Regions from separate parts of the Homo sapiens genome. Here region 1 is linked to region 2. The links come from fine-mapping of genetic effects on gene expression. A gene starts in region 2. The other region holds a variant in brackets. All regions are shown on one strand. Distances are from middle to middle.

The links. PIP is the estimated chance that this variant, and not a neighbour inherited with it, causes the effect.
Region 1: its variant is fine-mapped to the expression of ZNF471 in esophagus muscle (GTEx, PIP above 0.99). The same link has a PIP of 0.9 or more in coronary artery.

The regions. Positions count from the first base shown.
Region 1 is chr19:56,534,203-56,546,201 of GRCh38, reverse strand. ZFP28 (ZFP28 zinc finger protein) reads right to left here and starts at 7,254. Exons shown (of 8, transcript NM_020828.2): 1 at 6,976-7,254; 2 at 6,486-6,577. The coding sequence starts at 7,183. ZFP28-DT (ZFP28 divergent transcript) reads left to right here and starts at 7,468. Exons shown (of 3, transcript NR_183967.1): 1 at 7,468-7,777; 2 at 8,465-8,551; 3 at 9,870-10,046. It overlaps ZNF470-DT (ZNF470 divergent transcript), which reads left to right. Exons shown (of 2, transcript XM_047439806.1): 2 at 1-627. The variant C/T (reference allele first, on the strand shown) is at 6,751.
Region 2 is chr19:56,501,929-56,513,927 of GRCh38, reverse strand. It overlaps ZNF471 (zinc finger protein 471), which reads right to left and starts at 6,073. Exons shown (of 5, transcript NM_020813.4): 1 at 6,008-6,073; 2 at 2,324-2,411. The coding sequence starts at 2,356. It overlaps LOC124904776 (a long non-coding RNA gene), which reads left to right and starts at 10,178. Exons shown (of 3, transcript XR_007067352.1): 1 at 10,178-10,278; 2 at 11,455-11,504.

The sequences.
Region 1 (11,999 bases), 32 kb before region 2:
AATTCCAGCACTCACCAGCTCTGAAACCTCACTTGGTTACCTAACGCCTCTGTGCCTCAGTTCCCCAGCTATAAAATGGAAAAGGCAACAATACCAACCTTGTAGATTATGTTTTGGATTAAATGAGGCAACACATACACAGCACTTAGAACGTGCAAGGCACAATGGAAGCATGCAGTGAACATGACTTGTAATGATGCTGACTGTCATAACTCTCATCCATAGGGATGCTGCCTCTGCTTGTCACCCTTGACCTATATATTTTCAGGCAGTCCTCACCCAGTCCCCATTTGTGTGTTCTAGATAGAAAAGGCCCCATACTATGAAATGACTACTGTCCTTCTGCATGAAGCCTGGTGAACCTGATAATGTAGCCTTCAAGTTCCCTTACTGAGCCTTGAGCTCCCTTCAAAGTATCCAAGCCAACCCTGTCTTGGGAAACTCACCTAGATAATGCCCTGAACCCCAATAAAGGCTCCAGCCCACAGGTCCCTCCCTCTCTCTTGGTCCCCACCCTTTGGCTGGGCATGTGTGTCCTCAATGTCTCCAAGCCCTTCCAGTAAGCCCTGCAAGGTGTGCTGGCCACTGTTCTCTGGAATCTGTGAGTAATAAACAATCTTTTTGCCATTCTGCTCTAAGTGTCCCTCACCATGCTGCATCTGACTACACAAAACCTAATTTAAATACCTCACTTAACAAACCACAACACCAACCAAGAGCTGAACCTTTTAAAGATTCACATTATTCTACTAGAAACAAAAGTCCCTTTGAGGTTTGATATCTGCTGAATAATATACAATCACTTGTTCTTTAACCTGCTACCAAACTTTAAGGACATTTGTAACTGAATTGTGTAAAAATAGGTCAAAAGGGTTTTGTAAGTGATATCCCAATTTGAGTGAATATCAACTGCAGAGGGAGTTGAATCAGTCAACTGCAGAGCTACACTCTTGATGGTAAACTCATCATGGAGAAGTCTCCTAAGCTGGGGACTGAAAGGCCCCCTGCAGTGTAAACCATGAGGTAATACTTGCAGGAAACAGCCAAGAACTGCTTAATGTCCTTGAGCAAAAGACACACTAATATGGCTACCTGAGGAAGCTAGTCTAAAACAAATGCTGGTCAGCTCTCAGCAATAATTTTGCAAGTTGAAGCATCTTGGCATAAAAGAAGAGGAACTTATTTGCTTGCCAAGAAGAATCAACCCTAGTTTCCCAGGTTGATCATGCTATGCATTAGTGATCTGCTTTTGTACCAGTGGTTTGTTAAATGCCTTCAATGTAATCACGTAGAGGGACCCAACGTTAGCAATATACATATATCCTCCTAAGACATTTTCTGTTTATTCGGACAGCTCTTTATGTATAGAATCAATGACTTTTGTTTTAAAAATGTCTTTTACTGTAAATAACAGCAATAACAATAGCTGAAAGCACTTACAACACTTCAGACGCAATTCTATATACTTATATATTAGCTTATTTAATCCTCACAACGATCCTAATAGTCAGTACTATTACTATTCCCATTTTACAGATGAGAAAATATTGAGCTGTAATGTGCCCAGGATCACAGACAGTCAGCTGTAGAGCTGGGTTTTGAACCCAGGAGTCTGACTCCACAGTCCATGCTCTTAACCTCCACTTCAGGTGTCAGCAAAGTTTTTCTGTAAAGAGCCAGAAAGTAAATATTTTAGGCTTTGTGGGCCAAATAGCCTTGGCCGCAACTCTTCAATTTTGCCACTGTAGCACAAAAGCAGTCATAGATAATACATAAACAAACAAGTATGTTGTGCTACAATGAAATTTTTTTTATGGACACCAAAATGTGACTTTCATTTAATTTTCATGTATTCTTCTTCTTTTGATTTTTTTCAACCACTGAAAAATGTAGAACTCATTTGTAGCTGGTGGGCCACACAAAAGGAGGTGGTGGTGGGCTGGATTTGGCCTATAGGCCATAATTTGCCCAGTTCGGTCCTATATTAAACACTTTTTTTGAAGTACGCCATCTAAGTGTCTTGCCTGTAAATTTCTAAAACCGTCATGATGACATGAGGATGCTGCCAGCTAACACTAGTAAGTCCTTACTATGTGCCAGGTACCTCAATCCAGGCACTATACACATCTTAACTTAATCCTTACAAGAACTGCTTGAGGCAGGTCCAATTATTTTCCTCATTTTACAGATGAAGAAAATGTGGTCACTTGAGTTGCCTGAAGGTTACGCAATGATTAGATGCTAGGGCTAGCATGTGAACCTAGTCCATGACCTTTGACCACTTTGCCATTCTACTTCTATTAAAAGGTTCCACTTTGATAATAGCAGTAATACTTAGTATCCATTCACCCTGACAGTGAAACAAGTTCCAGTAGAAAACATGTTTTCAGATAAAAATAAAATGAACTTTCCCTAACTGATGTCTGGATCAACCTACTTAATTTAGGTGGAGACAAAACATTGTCAAATGTGCAGGTCCTGTTCTTATTCCTGTTGCTGCAACATAAATATGCAGACTTCAAAATGGGTTTCACATTTTTACACTATACCACAGAGAAAACATTATACAGGCACAGAATCTACTCCTGATATAGGCATCTGATGTAAGTTAACTCATCTTAATATACATATGAACTGGGTATGGTGGCACACGCCTATAGGCCCAGCCACTCAGAAGGCTGAGGCAGGAGAATTCCTTGAGCCCAGGAGTTTGAGGCTGTAGTACACCATAACTGTGCCTGAAAATAGCCAATATACTCCAGTCTGGGCAAAACAGTGAGACTCCCATCTCTTAAAAAAATTATATATACATATATATATAATATACATATATTAATATATATATAAAATATACATATATAATATATTCTATATAATATATAAACACACGCACACACACAAAGATAGAGACATTAAAAGAATACCAACAAAAAATAAAAGCAACTTTATACTTACAGAAAAATCTTTCTGTTGAAATTTCATAGAAAAGAATGAATATGAAGTACTTTATAGAAAAAATACACTAAAAAGATTTGTTTAAATTCAATTCAGTTAATTTTTAAAACATACAAATAAACATTTATTTGGTAATAACTATTATTCCTGATGAAGTGTACATTTTTTTCAAAACATGAATTCTAGCTTTTGAGGCACCACTGCTGTTCTATCCAAAAATAATTTTAGAAGTATTCCGATTTCACATAAGCTTAGGAAACCTTAATCCATGAGGCAAGAAAAACTTCTAGGAATGTATTCATACAAAATAATCAGGGGCTGGGCATGGTGGCTCACACCTACAATTCCAGCTCCTTTGGAAGCCAAGGTGGGAGGATTGCTTGAGGCCCGGAGTTTGAGGCTGCAATTATCTATGACTGTGCCACTGTACTCCAGCCTAGGTGACAGAGTGAGACCCTGTCTCTAAAAGCAAAAAAACAAAATAAAAAAATCAGGGACGAAGCACATTTTCAGGTATAAAAATGACTATTCTAACACTATACTAAATATCAAAACACTGGCCACAAGAGAACTTTAAGACTATATTCAAACATTCATCCACCAAATATTTTCTGTATCAGACATTAGGCAAAACTGCCCCAAATCCTTGCCTATGAAGTAAGGAAATGAGACAAGAGAAACTGAGATAAATTAAGTAAAATACATTTGACCTTCGAACAACATGGATCTGGGCTGCAAGGGTCCACCTATATGCAAATTTTTTCAACCAAATGCAGACTGAAAATACAATTATTGTCTGGGCGCGGGGAATCACACCTCTAATCGCAGCAATTTGGTAGCCCAAGGCGGGCGGTTGCCTGAGGCCAGGAGTTCGAGACCAGCCTGGGAAACATGGCAAAACCCCATCTCTACAAAAAATACAAAAATTAGCTGGGCATGGTGGCACATGCCTGTAATTCCAGCTACTTCGGAGGCTGAGATGGGAGCACTGCTTGAGCCTGGGGAGGTCAAGGCTGCAGTGAGCCGTGATGGCACCACTGCACTCCAGCCTGGGTGACAGAGTGAGACCTTGTCTCAAAAAAGATTATTTGTGGTATGGAAAACCTGTGTCCACTGAGGGCTGACTTCTCATATCTGCAGGCTCCACATGGCTGATGAATAAGTGCAAATTTTGGTATACGTGGGATTTCTGTATATAGTATGTTGAAAAGTACTACGAGGGCCAGGCACAGTGGCTCATGGCTGTAATCCCAGCACTTTGGGAGGCTGAGGTGGGCGGATCACTTGAGGTCAGGAAATCGAGACCAGCCTGGCCAACATGGTGAAACCCTGTCTCTAAAAAAAAAAAAAAAAAAAAAAAAAAAAAAAATTAGCCAGGTGTGGTGGCTACTCGGGAGGCTGAGGAAGGAGAATCATTTCAACTCAGGAGGCGGAGGTTGCAGTGAGCCGAGATCACGCCACTGTACTCCAGCCTGAGTGACAGAGCAAAACTCTGTCTCAAAAGAAAAGTACTAAAAGAAAAAAGCAAAGCAGGGAAGAGGGATGTGAAGAACAGGTAGGAGGCTCTGAAATTCTAGACAGGGTGAGCAGGAAAATGAGAAGGCGATTTTTCAGAAAGAAGAGAGTGATGTAGATGTCAGGGGTAACAAGGAGCCAGGTCATGTAGGGCCTGGTCAGTAACAGGAAGAGTTTTGGCTTTTATTCAGAGAAACCACTGGAGGGTCCTGAGCACAGCGTGACACAAGGTGACATGTTTGAATAGACCCCTCTGGCTGCTCATCGGGAAGGGGCTGTGGGGAGCGTGAGCAGAAGCAGGAGGTCACAGAAGCACAGTCAAGAAGCCCACAGTAAAAGGAGGACTTGGACCTGCTGCTGGTGATAGATGTGATGAAAACTGCCAGATTCTGCACATAATTTGCAAATAGAACTGACAGGATTTGCATCAGGACCAAATATGGAAGGAAAAGGCAAGAAATGAGCCAATCATGACAAGGCTTCCGGACTGAGTAACTGAGAGGATGAAACGGCCACTGACTAAGACTCAAACTGTGGGAGGAGCTGGTTTATGGGAGACTCTCAGGACTTCGGGTCTGGACAGGCTGTCTTGAGTTACCCATCAGACACTCAGGCAGAGGAGTGGAGCAGGATACACAGGCCGGCGGCTCAGAGGAGAGGTTTGGGCTCACAATGTGAATCTGGGAGGAGCCACCATGTGGGTAGGTTGTACAGACAAGGAACAGGCTACTATCCCCAGGAGACAGCATGCAGACAAAAAAAGAAAGGGCCATGAGCAGAGTGCTGAGGCACACTCTGTTCAAGTCACGGAGGTAAGAACTGTGGCAAAAACTGAGCAGTCAGGAAGATGAAAGTCAGATGAGTGTGAGATCCCAGTAGCCAAGGGAAAAAAGGGGGCCTATTGAAGGACAGGGATGAGCTATTTGAGGGATAGGTAGCCACCTGTTTTGTAACTGAAGTTTTACTGGAACACAGCCCATCCATTCATTTACATATTGTCTTTGGCTACTTTAGCTCTATAAGAGCAGAAAGGAGTAGATGCAGCAGGACTTTCAAAGCCTAACATATTTTCTGCTGTGGCCTCATCCAGCACAAGTTTGCCAGCCTCTGAGCTATTTCAAATACCAATGATAGTCAAAAAAGACTAAGAATTGAGCACTGCATCTGGTAATGTGAAGATCACAGTAACCCACTCAAGAGCAGTTTGGGTAGGACAACTGGAAGCTGGTTCATCTGTACATATATTTTTTGAGGCCTCAGTGGAAGTGAAATGGTTCATCTATTAATGAGCTAGCTATGATATTTATAGGAGAAGCCAACCGAAACAAACACAACTATTTACTGGCATGTTTTAAAGCCACAAAATCAAGTGGAAAAGCCTTTCATATTGCGCCTCCTCTCCCTAAAATGTTGTCTTTCTTTACTGTGCCTCCCAAACATCTTCTCTCCCTTCAAGGCAAGGCTCAAAAATCACCTCCTTGGTAAATAGGCCTACCCTTCCGCTACAGGAGGCTGGAAGCCAGGAGCGCCTTGTAGTCCTCGCTCATAATACTTGGCCCAAGGATGATCACATTCTAGAATCTTGCTTGTTTCCTTGACATTGGGTCAACAGGCTGTGAGCTCCAGAGCAGGGACTAGGGCTTAGCTATTGGTTTGCTCAGTGGCTGGCACAAAGTGGTCACCAAACAAACCATGTATAGCAGAAGAGTCTGCCGTGTTCCTCAAGGGGCACAATTCCTCCATCAGAGTCCCTCTGAGAAAAGCGGTACAAGGGAGAGGCTGAATCATTTCATCAATCAAGAATGAAGGCTGATTGGGATGAAGAAGAAGCAGGCATCGAGGCCCCGGGCAGTTTAAACTTTTCCCCGTAGCCCATCACTTCACTAGAACGTGAAGAAATAGAAACCCGCGCCCAAACAGGTCTCTTAAACTGAAAACTTTCAAGAAAATAAGCAACATTAAGTCCCGAAAAGCAAGACTGCATTTCAGAGACAAGAGATGAAATGCCAACTCACCTGGGACATGGCTTTAGGTTCAATTCCTGTCCCCACAGCCTCCAGCTTCTTGTTTCTCTCCTGGGGAAGAGCAGTGTCCCTGGAAGGCAGAGCTGAAAGAGAAAGGAGTAGCTAGAGACCAGGTCTACACCACAGTCCCAAATCACCAGCCTAGAAACGTCCCTTCCTGCATGAAAAGGTGGGATCAGATCATTACCCTGCCTAGGGACTGCCACAACGTGGAGATAGGTTTTTTTCCTCCCTGGGAGCACGAAAACAGGAAAAG[C/T]GTCTAGTTAGAGTCACCCTGGGAAAGTCAACACCCTTTTACCGCGGCTTGCTGCTCTGAATCAGTTGAGCTTCCAAATCTTCAGATTCTCCCACTCCACCAGCTTCAAAGACCAGGGGCACAGTTCTCCAGCAACTGGTCCCCGAGAGCCCAACCCCCTCCCAGATCTCATCCCGAGATGAATTCGTCCCTGTCCGCTCGGCCCCAAACACCTGTCACTCTCACCTCTGTGCCCAGGCCCCGTAGGGGCCGCTCCTCGCTGGCCTTTGGATGCGAGGCCATTCCTTGAGCGCGGCCTTCCCCGGGCAGGGAGGGCCAAGGTGGCTGGAGTCCCTACAGTCGGGCCTCGGCCCGCCCGGGGCTTTGTGCGGGGGGCGCCTCTACCCGGGAGCGGCGTCGGCTCGCGGACACTCGCGCTCGCCGCCCCCCGCATGTCACCCGAGGCCGCGCGACGCCCTTCCGACCGGTCCCTCACAGACCCACACCCCTGGCCACACCCGCCCGCCACGCCCAGCGAACAGCCCCGCGCGCGCTCCCCCATGGCCCGGCATCCACTGGGCCGCGCCGCGGAGCCGCCCCGCCCCCGGCCGCGCCCCGCCCCTCCCCACCCCTCCCCGCTGCCCCGCCCCGCCCCGCCCCGCCCCGCCCCGCCCCGCCCCGCCCCGCCCCGCCCCGCCCCGCCCCTCAGCCTAGAGAAGCCCGGCGCTTCCCACTTCCAGTGCGCAGGCAGCGCCGCCGGAACCGGGCGTGGCCTCGGCGCAATGCCCGCTGGGAAGCGTAGTCCCAAGCAGGGACGGATGCGGCGGCCCTCGGAGCTCAGGTTGCAAGATACGGTTTGGCCCCGGGCCTATGCAACGCCCGTCCGTCCTGCCCTCTGCGGGTCGCTCTCACTTGTCCCTGGACCGCAGCCGCCGCATAAGTGGTGGCCAACGCTGGGCCTGGGTGTGGCCGGAAGCAGAGGCCGCTCTGACTACACACCCACCCCCCAAAGGCTTCTGGGAGTCGCGCAGGCGCAGCGGCAGACCGGGTGAGGCGGGGCTTGCGGCGAGGGGTGGGACCGCAGGGCCGGAGTAAAAGGGTGCTTGGCTGTGACAGGTGCTAAGGGCCTGGGCGTCAGCTCCTTGCGGGAGCGTCACTGCCGACCGGGAAGGGAAAGGCAATCTTGGGGGCCTCCGGAGTCCGGAGGATCACTCTGATGGGTGATGTGTGTGGGCTAGGAAGGGGGATGTAGAGAGCTTGTGGGATTGTTTTGGGTGCCCCCTCACCTTCTCCCATTATCTCTGGCTACACGGGCCTCCCATCCTCCAAAATACCATTTTCCATTTTGTAACCTATGTATTTGCACGTCCTGGGTCGAAATAGTCTAACCCCAAATTTTCGTCTGGGCTGGCTCCTTTATGCCATTCACTTGTCATCGCCTCAGAGAGGGCTGCCTAACGTCTCAAAAATACCAGCCCTGGCGACCTCTTAAAGTTCCCTTCCTGTGTGAATCACGGTCTGAAGTTAGCTGATGGATTTATTCTTGAACATGTTTAGGACCGGTCTCTCCCCCAGGGGCCTTATCAGAACTGGAGAGCTTCATCCTGGGAGCCAAGGGCCTTGCTGGCTCACAGGCAGTGATGCTGTTACACCAGTCATCACAGATGCACTGACCTCTGCACGCCCAGTCACACTGCACGCCTGGTCTCCTTACTCTTGAATTGATTTCTTTCAGGTCTCCTGGCCTCAGTGATGGAATTAAGATGACTTCTATCTCTGAATCCAAGGGTGACTGAAAGCCGCAAGCTGCAGAAAGGACAAGGTCAGCATTTCTCTCAAAGCACTTCAGTCTCATAGAAAAGGCTTAGTTTCAGTCAGGTGGACCTAGCCATGTAATAGCTGTGGCAGACACTGCTAATGGTCTCTCTGGTGTCTATTTTGCACTCCTTCCACAGCAGAACATTGATGCTCTTCAAGTGGCCATCTGCCCAGCTTATAATACTCACCTCCCCAGTCTCCTTGTAAGGAGTAGTGGCTCTGTAACCAATGAATTTTAAGTACACATTTGCTGGGGGTTTGGTGGATGTGTGGAAAGAGACACAGCTGGCATGTAACTCTGGCCTTTTGTCATCTCACACAACCTTCTTCCTGCTTGGGTATGACACAGGATGTCAACAGGTAGAACAGCTGTAGAGAGCTGGCAAAGGGATCGTGGCCAACTCAACATTCCACTGGAGGCTATATGATCAAACAGCAAACTGTTTATCATGAATGCAGAATGTGGGCAAAGTCGCTTCTGCTCCAGCCACCAGAAGGTTTGCTGAAGGCAATCACTCCCTGGTGTCATGCTCCTTGAGGTTATCTAATGGGACATCTAGAGCCTATTGGTTGACGAATGCAGTCTTGCAAGCCTGCTGTAAATCAAGCTACTGACCGACAACCACCCCCCTTCTCCCTATTCACTCTAATAAATACGAAGGGCTGTAAAGGCTCAGGGCCTGTGTTCACTGGAAGCAAGGAGCCCCCAGACCTCTTCTTCCAAATATACTCTTTTGTCTTTGTCTTTATTCCCATGTTTGTCATCCTTTGTTCAGTCCAACAAGGATAGGGTCCGCTGCAAACAGCCACCTTGGCATCATGAGGATGAAAGTTATGCTAAAGATGGCTTAGCAGAAAAAAAGAGAAATAAACAATCAAAGAAATGGTATTAGAAATGAAAAAGTGGACATAATCACAGAAATTTTTAGAATTTTGCAAATACTGTGATCACCTTATCTCAATATATTTAAAACATATGCAGGGGCTTACCATAGAGAAAATTATAAGTACCAAAACTGACTCAAGAAGAAATGGAAAATCATTAAATAAGTTCTCAGGCTTTTCCATGAATACCAAAGCAATAAATAATCCTTATCCTATAAAACTATACTGGAGAATTTAAAACTAGACACCCTTGATACCAAAACTGGACAAGGACAGTAGGGAAAGAATTTAAGTAGGGAAAGAATTCCAATCTTCAGGGACAACATACACATTAAAATCCTACCTAAAGTGACAATAAACAAAGTCCAGCAATACATAGAAAAATATGTCATGTCCAAGGAAGATATGTCAGAATACTTTCATGTTCTGGAATGTAGAGGCATCACCTATGTGGATAAAGACAGCATCCTGAGTTGATGGAGAAATGGCATAGAAGGAACCAGGTCCTTTGATGACATCATGGAGCAAAGCTGTCTTCTTGCCTTGACCTGCTACCTACCTACATGGGAAGCTGTTACTTGAGAAGGCAATAAAATCTATCTTCTTTATTGACAGAGTTGACAATACCTTTTTTATCTTATTGTAGCAGTCACTTATCCTCAAATGACTGCTATATCCTATTTTCCTATTATATGGGGCTATATGCGTCCTTGTTCATATTTAGCAGAGAAGCAACAGAAGCACACTAAAGAATTATGAAGAAAAATATTTCAATATATCCAAATTTTTAGAGAGCTATAAGAATAATTTCATTATTAAGTTCTCCTGCAGCAGGAAGTTGACAAAATATCTCATCTTAACCACCAGGAGTTACACTGTGCTTTTTTTATAAACCCAAAACTATAGCTTTTTGAAAAACAGAAACCAACAAGAAAGATGAATAATCTCCCGGCTGAATCATTTAGATTAAGCTGATACAACTTATGAACTACTGCCAATCTTCACATTTGCCATATTTATAAATTGTTTTATTAATTTTTTTAAAAATTCAGTATAAAGAGTAATATATACTCACAATAGGCAAAAATAAAATTTATAGCACAAAGAAAGGATGTCATATGCTTAGGTGTCAGATGTTTAACAAACAGAATGTACAACATAATGACATTTGATTTGGGAAATAATACTTAGTCCAATGAATTTAGTTATCCAAGGAATCTACTGATTAAAAATATGAATTTTCTATAAAATCATAATTTCTGATTCTATATTTTTCTCTGGAGAGGTATTTTATGTTTTATGTCCATAGGGCCTTACCACATCATGGGACATAAGTCTTTCCTTAGTCACTCAGGAATAGCCTTGTGATATCTGGCTAAGATGAAGGGCAGTCTACTCCTGTCACTGGGAATTCAGTCAGCTTTCGATGAATCATCTGAGGGTGGAAGAGACACCTGAGCACAAGTTGAGTTTTGTTAGAAAAGACAAAAAGGAGACTGGATGCCAAGCAGGTAACCAACAGTACATACTGCCAAGAAGTTATCACAGGAGTGCCACGGTGGGGAGCCTGTTAATATCATTCACCACTATTAATAAATAAGGATGAAACAGTTCCTGGAATCATCTCAATAGATGATTGAGATAAAATGCAGCTCACACCTGTGATTTTAAAAAGAAAAAGCCTTAGCAAACTAGGAATGGTGGAGAGCTTCCTTACTTGGATAAGAAGATGGAATAAAATTATTATAAACCCCAAATACTTTCATTCAGCTTTGGTTAAAATGGTCTGTCAACATCAGACTGGAAAGCAAAGGTTTCCATAGGTAGTCCTGAAAATGGAAAGCAGTGGCATAGACTTTGTCTTTTATTATAAATAATATTTACTCATAACTTATTATTAATTGGAAAATGGAAAAAAAAAGCCTCAGACCAAGAGGTGAAACCTCACTTAGGTTAGATTTTGTGAGCCTACTTTAAAAGCAGTAGAGTGATAAATTGGCCTTCATCAAACTGAGATACACAGCATGTGAAATAAAAAATTCACTGGGCTTAAAAGCAGAATGGAAACAAAAGAAGTAAGACTAAGTGAACTTGAAGAGAGATTGATGGCAATTATCCAATCTGAAGCACAAAGGAAAAAAAGTTGGGGGGAGAAAAACACTGCTTCAGAGCAATGAACAGGCAGTAACTAAAATTCAAAATACAATACCATTTCCGATTATGAATTTTAGCTCCAGATCAACTGCAAGAACAAACCAGAAATCCCAAGAGTACCCACAGACCCTCTGAAGGAGGCAGGAGACACCCCAAATACTGTGAGTGCCCCAACTTCGGAAATGGGAAAGAGAGATCCTCCTCTTCCAAACATACCCCACCCCAACTGGAGAAACTGAAGGTCTGTTTGTGGGAGAAGTTTCTGACATTTCCTGGAGCTGAGTCAATTTAGAGAGCTGAGCAAAATACAGGGATAGAGGAAGCAGCGGGAAAGACCCTGGGAGCTTGCTGGACCCCAGGCAGGCCATTCCTGCCTGGCACCACAGGGATCCACTGGGAGGGCACTCAGGTGA
Region 2 (11,999 bases):
TGTGGTATAAGATTTCTCTACACTATCTCTGCAATTTTTCTACAAATCTAAAACTATTCTAAAAAATAAAATTTATTTTTTAAGTAGACCTTCTCAAGAGGAGGACATCAAAGCTTCAAACTATCTTTTAAAAATATATAAAGTCTAGCACTAAACCCAAAATGAGGCATTTAAGACAAAAAACAAGATAATTTTCAAAACATCACAAAATAGAAACACATAAGAGATCCAGATAATGGAATTATCCAACAAGGATACCAAAATATTATGATAATATTTTTAAGGAGCTAAAAGGAAAGGTAGTGAATTCAGGAAGAAAATAGAAAATTACATAAAACAATTAAATAGAAATTCTAGAACTAAGTATGCAATAACAGAAGTTAAGAATTCCATTATGGGCTTAACAGGAGATTAGAGAATTAAAGAGAGAATTAAAGCATAAGTGACATATAAAACAGTGTCAGTTATGTATATAATTGTGATCTTAGAAAAAGAGGAAAGTTTCAGAATATTTGTGGTTGAAAAATTTCCAAATTGATGAAAGACACCAAGCTACGCTGAACACTGACTTAAAACAAAAATAGTGAATAATGTTTACAGTCTATCAAATAAGCATGTGTGTGTGCATTTCAGGTGGTGGGGTTAATGGACTGCATCTTTATCATCTATAGTAGTAGGTTACTGGATCATTTCTAAAACTAAAATAATCAAGAAATAGTGTATGGAACATTATTCAGGAGTATGAGGTTAAATATCAAAACTAAAGACAGTAAGTTGTATTGTGGAGATCCCAACTTACTTCTATAGGGCAAATTGGAGGGGACTAATTCTGTTGTGTATGGTGCTTGTGACTTCAGGTAGAATTTTAATGACAACATGAGGCACACAAACTAAAAGGTCTGTATCTTTGGAAAATTATGTTAGGTAACTCACAAAATGGTTTTAATGCTGAGGAAGACACAGATGCCCAGAATCCATGTAAATGTTTTTTAATATCTCATGAACTCTGACAGCACAAGAAAAAAAAGCAGTGTTTCAAAATTAATTTAACGTAACTTTCCATATGAAGCATATAAATTAATTAAGCATTAATTATGGACATCTGACACTCATGTATGTCATGAAAACACATTTTCCACTTAGAAAAAATGTGAGGAGGGGAATTTCACAGTGGGAGAATTAAGGATTCCTTTTTATACATTGTTTCTTATACATGTGCAATATAATATTTAAAAATTAAAAGATTAAAAGCAGAAATTCAAGTAAAACTGAGTGTAGTACAGCAACAGAACCAAATACACACAGGAATTTAGTGCATGATATAGGTGGCATTTCAAATTAGTGAGAATGAGATGAATAATTCAATTAATGCCATTGTGCCAACTTGAAAAAATAAATCTCTGCCTCACTTATTATAAATTATACATGTAATGTAAAAATGTAATGTAAATTAAATGTAAAAATCTAATGTAAATTAAATTTAACATAAAAAGTTAATGTAATTTCAGCCCTACCATGATAGAAAACCACAAAAATCAAGTCTAAGCTTACCAGAAACTTAACTGTGAAGGATAAAACAAATCTTAGAAGAAAAATAGGACCTAAAGGTAGACAAAAATTTCATCAACAAGACACGAAAAATCATTAACTTTGAAGGGAAGAAAGTATTTTTGTATACACGCAAAGGCATAACATAGCTCTGAATGAGATACATGGTGAGAATAACTTCTTAAAATAACTGGGAGTTAAGGGTGAAATTTGTTTGTAAATTTTGTACCATGTCAACTTCTCACCTATTTAAATTTATAAAATTTGCAAAAATTAAGTAGAATAAGATTTTTCAGGTGAACGAATGAGGTTGGTAATTCATACTTAAAATGTAAAGAAAAACTTTTAAAGAATTTATCTTAAGGACATAATTAGAGATTTGGAGAAAACTTCAGGTAGAGGAATAATTCCTAATGCATTCTATATATAGGAAACGCACTGCATGCACATTTAACCTGGAGCCCAACTCACTAGTACTAACATATCCACATGTATATTCCACACAACATAAATCAAGTCTTTTCACAAGAGTCAACACTAAATTTAAAATGTACACAAGGTGGGAAGAGGAATCTCAGAGGGACCTCCATGACTTTTTATACTAAGCTATTACTCACTCATTAGGTAATTAGAGTTAAAGACAGTGGCCCCTGAGAGAAGTGGGAACTAGGCTCCTGGACTGTTAATCAGGGAATTTTCAAAAGAAAAGAAGCATTACAAAAAGTCCTAAACAGCAAGACTGCCTTTCATGAAGAGAAAGAAAATATCCACTAACCTGGGGCATGACTTTTACTACTTCAACATTCATTTTTGCCTTCTCTTCTGGTCTTTCTCTTGAAGAACAGTGTCTTGGGAGGGCAAGGCTGAAGGAAGGGAAAGGTTAGAGAGAGATGAGGCCAGAGATGCTGCACTCCCAGAATCACTAGCCTAAAACTGTCTTCTTCTTCCCAGCTTTGGTTGATCCCATAACTGGGTATGAGCAACCTATGGCCACTGAAGGGCTAAAACTCATAACGGTTTTTTTTTTTCATGCTTGAGGTCCTAAATTTAATCTTTTTCAAAGAGCTACCTTCCCATTCAGATGCATTAGGTACTCTGCATAGATTAGATTATCTCACTTTATTTTTCAAATAATCCTATAAAATAGTCATTTCCTCCATTTTACAGGTAAAGGTGGAGTCATTCTCTTCTTGGGTCTCTGCTTCATGCTTTGAAAGTCTACTGTTTGAAAATCTGGCTCCTTTCTGGGCCAGATGGATGGGGTTTTTGGGAAAAAAAAAAAAACAAAAGAAAAAGGAAAATCTGACTCCCAAATGCCACCAGAGGCCAGGGTTATCCTCCTTCTTCACTCAATCCCCACCACTGCATCCCTGACCCACCCCCCGGCACTGTTTCACTTTCCTCACCCTGAAACGATGGAACCTTTAGCACTCAATTCTGCCACTTTCACTCTCACCTCTGTCCCAGCCCCTTAATTACCCTCCTGTCACACAGAAGTGAGGGTGTCTCCTGCTTCAGTTAGGAGCTTCAGTCACCCCAGCTTTGCTTCTTACTGAAACCCTTGGACTGGGGACAGGAATTCTATTCCACATTTCCTATCCCGGCAACACACAATTCCAAACAGCCACACTCATAAAGAATCCAATCCTATCAATCTTCCAAGTAGTCTCTCCATACACAGCAGTCATACAGGGCCACAATTATGGGTATACAGGGTGACATACAAACACTAACACAGGTTTCATGGTCACACGGAGGACACAATCACAAGCACCCCAAAACAAGCACATATACACAGTCACATTTCCATTGCCTGAGGACATGAATATAAGCACACGTGGTGATTCACCAACACCTTCACACATACCCCCAATCTTACTTCTCTCACACACACAGCTCACTGTCCCTTATCTCTGTCTCACTCACACATGCATGCTTCACAACCTCACAGAGGTTATATTTGTAAAGCCTTTTGGATAACACACCATGGTTCACATAGTTTCTTTCTCACCCATTTTGGTCTCTCACACAACCACATCACTAGTCTTTCTCTCCCTCTTTCACACATATAAACATGATGGTCTCTCATACATACACATTCAATGGTATCTTTCAAAGAGGCCTCAGTTACTCAAATGCTCCAGTGTCTCACACAGATACACAAACACACTCTGATCTCTCATATTCCAACTGCTTTATCTCATGCACACAAAATACATACTGGTCACTCTCACTCCAATCTTTTTCATACTGTGATACACCCTCTCACAACCTACCAGTCCAGACAGAGACATACTCTAGTCTCTCACATACCCATTGGTCTCTCACACACTCACACCAACATACCCCAGTCTCTCCCAATCACTGAACTCTCAGTCTAGTCTCTTGCTTTTACTCAGACACACACATGATCTTTCTCAGACTCCAGGGAGCCTCATACTTGTTCATCTTTCACACAGGCACATCTATTTCTCTCACACATTGATATACCCTGGTCTCACACTCTGGATTCTCACAATCCAGTCCCTGATAACACACTCAGGTGACAAAGAGGAAAAACAAACTGTTTCTCCTACTCCACTCACACAACACAAAACAGTTCTAAGACCAGATGTGTGGGGATCTACACACACACACACACACACACACACACACACACACACACCAGGCAAGCAATAAGTTCTTCAGTGAATACCAGGTGGGTGACCTCTAGGGCAACCCAGTGAATACCAGGTGGGTGACCTCTAGGGCAACCCAATTCTGACACTATCTACCTGGAGACAGCATAAGATCCCACAGGTTGAGGGCTCAGCCCTACAAAATTGCTCCCCACTTCCAATGCCAGTTGCAAACCCCAGGTTGTTTTACTTGTGCTTCTGACTAGCTATAAATCGGGGTTCCTATGACCCCCTCCTTGCGTTCAATTAATTTGCTAGGGCAGCTCACAGAACTTAGGGAAACACGTTTGTAGTAATAAAGGATATTACAAAGGATGCAGGTGAAGAAATGCATAGGACAAGGTTATATAGGAAGGGGCTCATCCTACAGGAACCTCCAGTGTTCAGCTATCTGGAAGTTTGATGAACCCAGTCCTTTTGGGTTTTTATGGAAGCTTCATAATGTAGGCATGACTGGTTAAATCACTGACCACTGATGATCAGTTTAACCTGTGGCTCCCTTTCCTTTCCCTGGAGATTGAGGGATGGGGCAGGTAATCCCAACCCTCTAATCCTGCCTAGATTGTTCTTGTGACCATCCCTTACCGTGATCAACCTACAGGCTGCCAGCCCACCAATCATTAGCATGCAAAAAGACACTTAATACTTTGGAGATTCCAAGGATCTTAGAAGTCGTAAGCCAGGAAACATAACTTTGTCCTATACTTTGATCGCCTCCCTCTCTCTCACAAACTCATAACAACATAACCTAGTCTCACTCTTTGGACTCTCACAGTTTAGTCTCTTTCTCTCTCTCATACACACACACCAGCCTCTCAAGGAGCCTCACATAATGACTGGTCTTTCACACACAGCCACGTGCTCATCTCTCTCACACTCACTGGTCTCACGCTATGTTGTCTCTCACACACGAACACACCCTGGTCTCACACTCTGGTCTCTCTCAGTCTGTCAGACACACATAACACGGCCTCACACACTGACGGGTCTTTCACCCAAAACACCCATTTCTCACACTCACTGGTCTCCCTTTCACACATTAACATACCACAGTCTCACACTCTGTTCTTGCACAGTCTAGTCTCGCATACATGGTGATTCTTCTCTCTCTCGAACACACACCGGCCTCTCATTGAGCCTCACCCACCGACCGACCGGCCTTTCACACACAGGCACACGCCCATCTCTCACACTCACTGGTCTCTCACACTCCATCCAGCCCGTCTCACTCTCTCACACGAATACATCCTGGTCTCACGCTCTGGACACCTGGTCTGTTACACACTTACACACCCACACACCTCGCAACCTCTCACTGAGCTTCACACGCTCTCTTTCAAATGCAGGCACATCCCTATCTCTCTCACACTCACTGGTCTCTCACACTGGCCCGTCTCGCTCTGTCACACACGAACATACCCTGGTCTCACACTGGACTCTCGGTCTGTCACACACACACACACACACACACAGAAACCACACCCTCTCACGGAGCCTCACACTCTGACAGATCTTTTACACACAGGCACACCCCCATCTCTCCCACAGCTCACTCCAGTGGTCCCGCCGCCCCAAGCCGCCCCGAACGCCCAGCAGCCCCGAGCCGCGGCCTCCGCCCCGCAGACTCGAGTACGCGCGCCCCGCTGGCCTCTGGGAAATGTAGTCGTCCTGGGGACAGAGGACGCGGCTGGGCCTTCGCGACCCGCGTCGGAGCCGCCCGCCTCGCCTGCCCTTCCTGGCCCAGCCCTCGAGCTCGGACTCCCAAACCACCCAAAACAAACCCCCGGCCTCGTCTGGCACCCAGACGCTCTCATCCGAAGGACTCCGTGAGTCGACGCTGGAACCCCCCATCGCGCAGGCGCCAGCCTCTCTCCAGGGGTCGGACGAGAGGGGCGGAGACAAGGCGTGGCCTAGTGTTGAGGGGATTGTCCTCGGGCTGCTGAAGGAGTGAGAGGGACCTTAGAGCAGAGCGGGCGGTGCCTGCGCAGTGCGTGATTACGCGAGCCGGGCGTGGCCCAGGGTTCCGGCGGGTAAGAGCAGGAGTGTGCGCAGGCGCAAAGATTGCGCTCTCCCCCTCTCCTCGCCTAGAGACCAGAAGCGTCCCTAGTTACTAGTTCCTGGGGCCTGGGAGGGAAACGCGCGACGGCTGAGCCTTCGGTGTGAGTACGCGTGGGGCTTTGTGACGCTGTCTGTGCCTCTGTGATCGCGATGTCATTCGGAGCGCGGCCTTCTGTGCCAGTCCGTGGGAGTGTCATTATCTTTCTGTGTTAAGCTTATTTTGGAATAAGACAGCGACGAGGAACCCCGACCGTGTTGTGACTCTGGCGAATTAATACCTCTTTCAGCTGCAAATGGGAATGTCACTGATCAGAGGCAGTGAATAACACGACGTTTTTGGAACCAATCTGCTAGGCTTGAACCGCGTTCAGCCCCTTAACAAAATGGAAATGGTCCCCGTTTTAGGGGACTAGCCCTGACTAGGAGAACTGTAGAATTAGTATTGGAAGGTGAGACAAATAAGGAAAAGCAATTCAGGGGGATACAGCAGAGAAAAAAAAATCCCTGTCCTCTTATTATGTAATTTACTTTGAAGCGGAGAGAGACAAGCCACAAATTCATGAGTTAGATAAACAGTCTGATGAACAGTAAAAAGGGCTATGGAGAAATATAACTCAGAGAAGGTTGTATCGTATACATTTTTTCTATTGTCTCTTATAATGTCTTAACATGTCAAAAAAACCTGTCTGCAGCAGACACCAGCCAGGTGACCGCTACTCCAATTCAATTCTGACGCTACCTGGAAAACATCAGATCCTACAGGTTAGACAGCTCAGTCCCAAAAGACTGTCCCCCACTTCCCATGCCAATTCCAAACTCCAGATTGTTGTACCTGTGTTTCAGAGAGATGTGCTATAAATTGGGGCTCCCACAGCCGGCTCCTTGGGTTCCATTAGTTTGCTAGAGCAGCTCACAGAACTCAAGGAAACACTTATGTTTACTGGTTTATTATAAAAGATATTTTAAAGGATACAAATAGCCAGATGAAGAGACATGTAGGGCAAGGTCCGAGAGAATCCCTAGTGCAGGAACTTCTGTGCCCGTGGAGTTGGGGTGCACCACCCTCCCAGCACGAGGATGTGTTTTTGTCTACCTTCTTGGAAGCCGCTTGAACTCAGGCCTTTTCGGTTTTCAAGGTTTCATTATGTAGATGTGATTGATTAAATCATTGGCCACTGGCGATCAACTTAATTTTCAGGCTCTCTCTTTTCCCAGAAGTAGAGGGTGGAGCTGTGAGTTCCAGTCCTCTGAGCACATGGCTGGTTCCTCTGGCAACTAGCCACCACTCCCCCCAAATATTGGGATTATCTTGAGAGTTTCCAAAAATCACCTCATTAACATAAACTCATGTGTGGTTGAAATACTGTCTTTCACCTTTATGGCTCTGGAGCTGTTCTGGAGCTTTTTCAGGAACCAGGAACAAAAGGCCAGATATTTTAACAAAAGATACTTTATTGCTGCAGTCATTTAGGAAATTAAAAGAGCTGTAGGAACTGAGAGCCATGAACTGTACCTTTCTTTCTAACTCCACATTCAGTGATGTCATATTGGTAGATTGAAATCCACCACAAGGGGACTATTTACAGTATGGAAATACAGTCTACATCGCTAAAGGATGGAGATACATTCTGAGAAATGGGTTCTTAGGCAATTTCCTAAGAACCTTGTTGTGCAAACATCATAGAGTGTACTTACACAAACCTAGATTGTGTAGCCTACTACACACCCACACTCACTCAGACTGGGACAACTTAGACATACCAGTTAACTTACTGTGCACATCTTTGGGATGTGGGAGGAATCTGGAGTACCCAGAGAAAACCCATGGAGACATGGTGAGACTAGTCAGATTGCATTAGGACCCACCCTAACGACCTCATTTCAACTTAATTAACTCTGTAAAAATCCTATATCCAAATACAGTCACATTCTGAGGTACTGGGAGTTAGGACTTCAACATGCAAAATTTGGGGCAGACAAAATTCAACCAATAACAAGAGATTATTTTGATTCTTCTGTCCTCATTCATCCCACCAAGGAAGTAAGGGGTATTTCCATTATCATACTATATATTAAATTATCATTACATTACATATATAATGTTTTCTTTATCTAATTTTTACTTTATATATACCACATTTTTGTTCATGGGCCATCAAAGGTATTATCTCACATAATTCTTGTAAAAATAAAATTGAATAACTAACTTTACAGTTGAAGATTTAAACAATAAGGGACTTTTTCCAAAGCCACACATCTAATAAGTTTCAAAGGTATTACTCTAATTCAAGTTTCTTCTTTCCAAATTCAGAACTCTTTCCATCCTGTAACAGTGCACTATTTTTAAGCTTAACTCCTTTCTGAAGAATATCAAATTTAACAACAGTGTTGGTGACCAGGTGAATTTGGATTACAAATTAATTTCTGGGACAGAATATGATATTCTCAACTTTTGGAACTTCAGGTGAGAGTTGACCAGTTTTCCCCACAGGCTCCATGTGGTCAACGTTATTTGTTTAGAATTGGAAATGGCCTTGTATGACACTGGATCCAACTTATCCTAGCTTGGGGTCAGCTTTATTAATTCTAACAAACTCTTTTTTGTTTGTTTTGAGAAAATGCAAAGTTTGTTTAATCTCTTCAGGTTTCACAACCAGTGGTAGCATAGTGAGTTTATTCACGCCATCATGTTGAATTTTATAAAAGAATCTTACATATGGTTGACTGCTAACATCTACTTGCTTAGTCCCTGAGATTTGCTTATATGGGATAGAGTAGGAATTCCTACAAAAAGAAAGAGAGGTCTGAAAGATAAAATTCCTGGAGTAGCACTGAGTCAGAGTCTCTGGCAGAATCCCAACAAACTCACAGTTCCTGATTTACAGCCCAGGGATTCTTAAACAGTGGTGCCCAAGTGTAGTAACATCATTTGATTGTCCAAACATTAGTTAGCCTCTTCCCTGCCTTATATTATAATGTTCTTCAGGGCAGAAATGACCCGTATCTTGTCCTCTGTTCCTTCTACAGTGTCTAAGTAGATGTCAAGCACATAGTGGGTTATCAATACATTTTGTTAAATGAATGAATTAAAGAAGGACAAGCTATAGCCAAAACTTTAATGGGAGTTTGATGTTTTTTGCCTTTTGCAAGAATCTTGAAGCAAGAAGAATGGATACATTTATTCTTATTATCTCTCTTTTTCATTTAAGATTGTTTACCTAGTGAGAAATCCCAGAGATATAGTTACTTTTGGTTATTATTTCTGGAGAATGAGGATGGTCAAAAATACGGAGTCATTTAAATAATATTTGGAATGGTTTCTTCAAGGATATGGTGAGTCTGACTCTAAATATGGGTTCTTGGCCAGGTGCAGTGGCTCACACCTGTAATCCTAGCACTTCGGGAGGTCGAGCTGGGAGGACTGCTTCAGCTCAGGAGTTTGAGACTGGCCTGGGCAAAATGGTAAGACCTCGTCTCTTCTAAAAATCAAAAAAATTAGCTGGACATGCTGGCCCATGCCTGTAGTCCCAGCTGCTCAGGTGGCTGAAGTGGGAGGATTGCTAGAGCCCAGGAATTCAAGGCTGCAGTGAGCCATAGTCACACCACTGCACTCCAGCCCAGGCAACAGAGCAAGACCCTGTCTCAAAAAAAAAATGGATTCTTCCAGGTGCAGTGGCTCACGCCTGTAATCCCAGCACTTTGGGAGGCTGAGGCAGGAGGATCACCTGAGGTCGGGAGTTCGAGACCAGCCTGACCAACATGGAGAAACCCTGTCTCTACTAAAAATACAAAATTAGCCGGGCGTGGTGGCTCATGCCTGTAATCCCAGCTATGGGAGGCTGAGGCGGGAGAATCGCTTGAATCTGGGAGGCGGAGGTTGTGGTGAGCCGAGATCACGCCACTGAACTCCAGCCTGGGCAGCAAGAGCAAAACTCTGTCTCAAAAAAAAAAAAAGGATTCTTGAAGGGGTAGTGGAGTTTCTGCACCTCAACAGGTATTACTGTCTCACAGTTTAAATGAATGTTGCCATCCAAACTTCTAAGTGTTGTTAAATATCCGATACCTCCAGTTAGCAACAGAAGCTCAGTCAACGTGCTTTGTCCATACAAATTATTCTAAGTACTATGAACATTAAAAAAGATAACTTATGACATTCAAAATAAGAGGAGTGTAATTCACACTACACTGAGATACCATTTCTTACCTATCATACTGAGAAGTGTATTCATTTTTTTATCTCCGCTGTAACAAATTACCATAAACATAGCAGTTAAAGCAAAACAAAACAAAAAAATTATGTTGTGTAGTTCAGAATTCCAAAATATACTTTATGAGCTAAAATTAATGTCTGGGCCTAGCTGCCTGCCATTCCTGAGGCTCCAGGAGAGAATCTACTTCTTGCCTTTGCTGGCTTCAAGAGCAGTGGTCCTCAACCATTTTGGCACCAGGGATGGGATTTCTGGAAGATGGATGGGGCAATGGTTTCAAGGTGAAACTGTTCCACTTCAGGTCATCAAGCATTAGTTAGATTCTCATAAGAAGCGTTCAACCTAGATCCCTCACATGCGCAGTTCACAATAGGGTTCACGCTCCGGTGAGAATATGCTGCCACTCATCTCACAGGAAGCAGAGCTCAGGCGGTGACGTTTGCTCGCTGCTCAACTCCTTCTGTGTGGCCTAGTTTCTAACAGGTCACAGACTGGTACCGGTCTGCGGCCCAGGGGTTGGGGACTCCTGTTCTACAGGCTGCCCTCATTTCTTGTCACAAGGCTGCATCTCTCTTGTCATCAGGTCTCCTTTGCTTCTTACACTTCAGCCTCCCTCCTATAATGACCCATGTGATTACAGTGCCTTCACCTGAATAGTCCATGGTGCTCTCCCTGTTTGAAGATCCTTTAATCACATTGGCAAAGTCATTTTTGCCATGAAAAGTAACAAATGAACAGATTTTGAGATTAAGACATGGACATCTTTGGTGTTGAGAGCGGTGGGGAGGCTCCTTCCTACCACACAGCTAGCATTCAAATTATTCAGATCACTCTAGTGGAGAGACCCTGGGTAGACAGGTATGCTCATATGTTGGCGGTTAGAAGGAAAATGACACAAGTCTGTGTAAGATAAGTTTGCAAATCCTCACATTCTAACACTTAAAATTTACATTTTCATGCAGAATTCCCCCTTCTCCAGTGAAAAAAGTATACAAGCAAAACCACGAAAAAGGTAGATTTACAAAACTATTCAAATGTTTCTTATTTGTAATAGCAAAAAAGAACCAAAATTCCCACCGACAATATCCTGGAACAGCACCCAACTTACAACAAGAATAAGGAATACTGCCACACCACTGCAGAGTGGCCTCTAGGATCCCCTGTTAACTTAAAAAGATTAAGGTATGGAACAAAGTTTGTGACTATTCTACCAATGAACCAAGACAGAGGACAACCCAGAAGACTGCACAGGGAGAGCAGAGCTGGCACAGCTTGGAGTCAGGGTTGGGAGTCAGGTGTGGTCAAGACATGAAGCTACTAACGTCTGCATGGTCGATATCATGGACAGCCTTAAATACAGAATTAAGGAGCTTGGATTTTAACCTGTATTCCGAGTTTAAAAAAATACTGTTTCTGACAAGTACTCTCAGATTTTGGGAGTGGAATTTTTATAAAAGATATTTTAAAGGCTGTAATGCTCCCGCCCCCAAATTTAAAACGTGTTCTA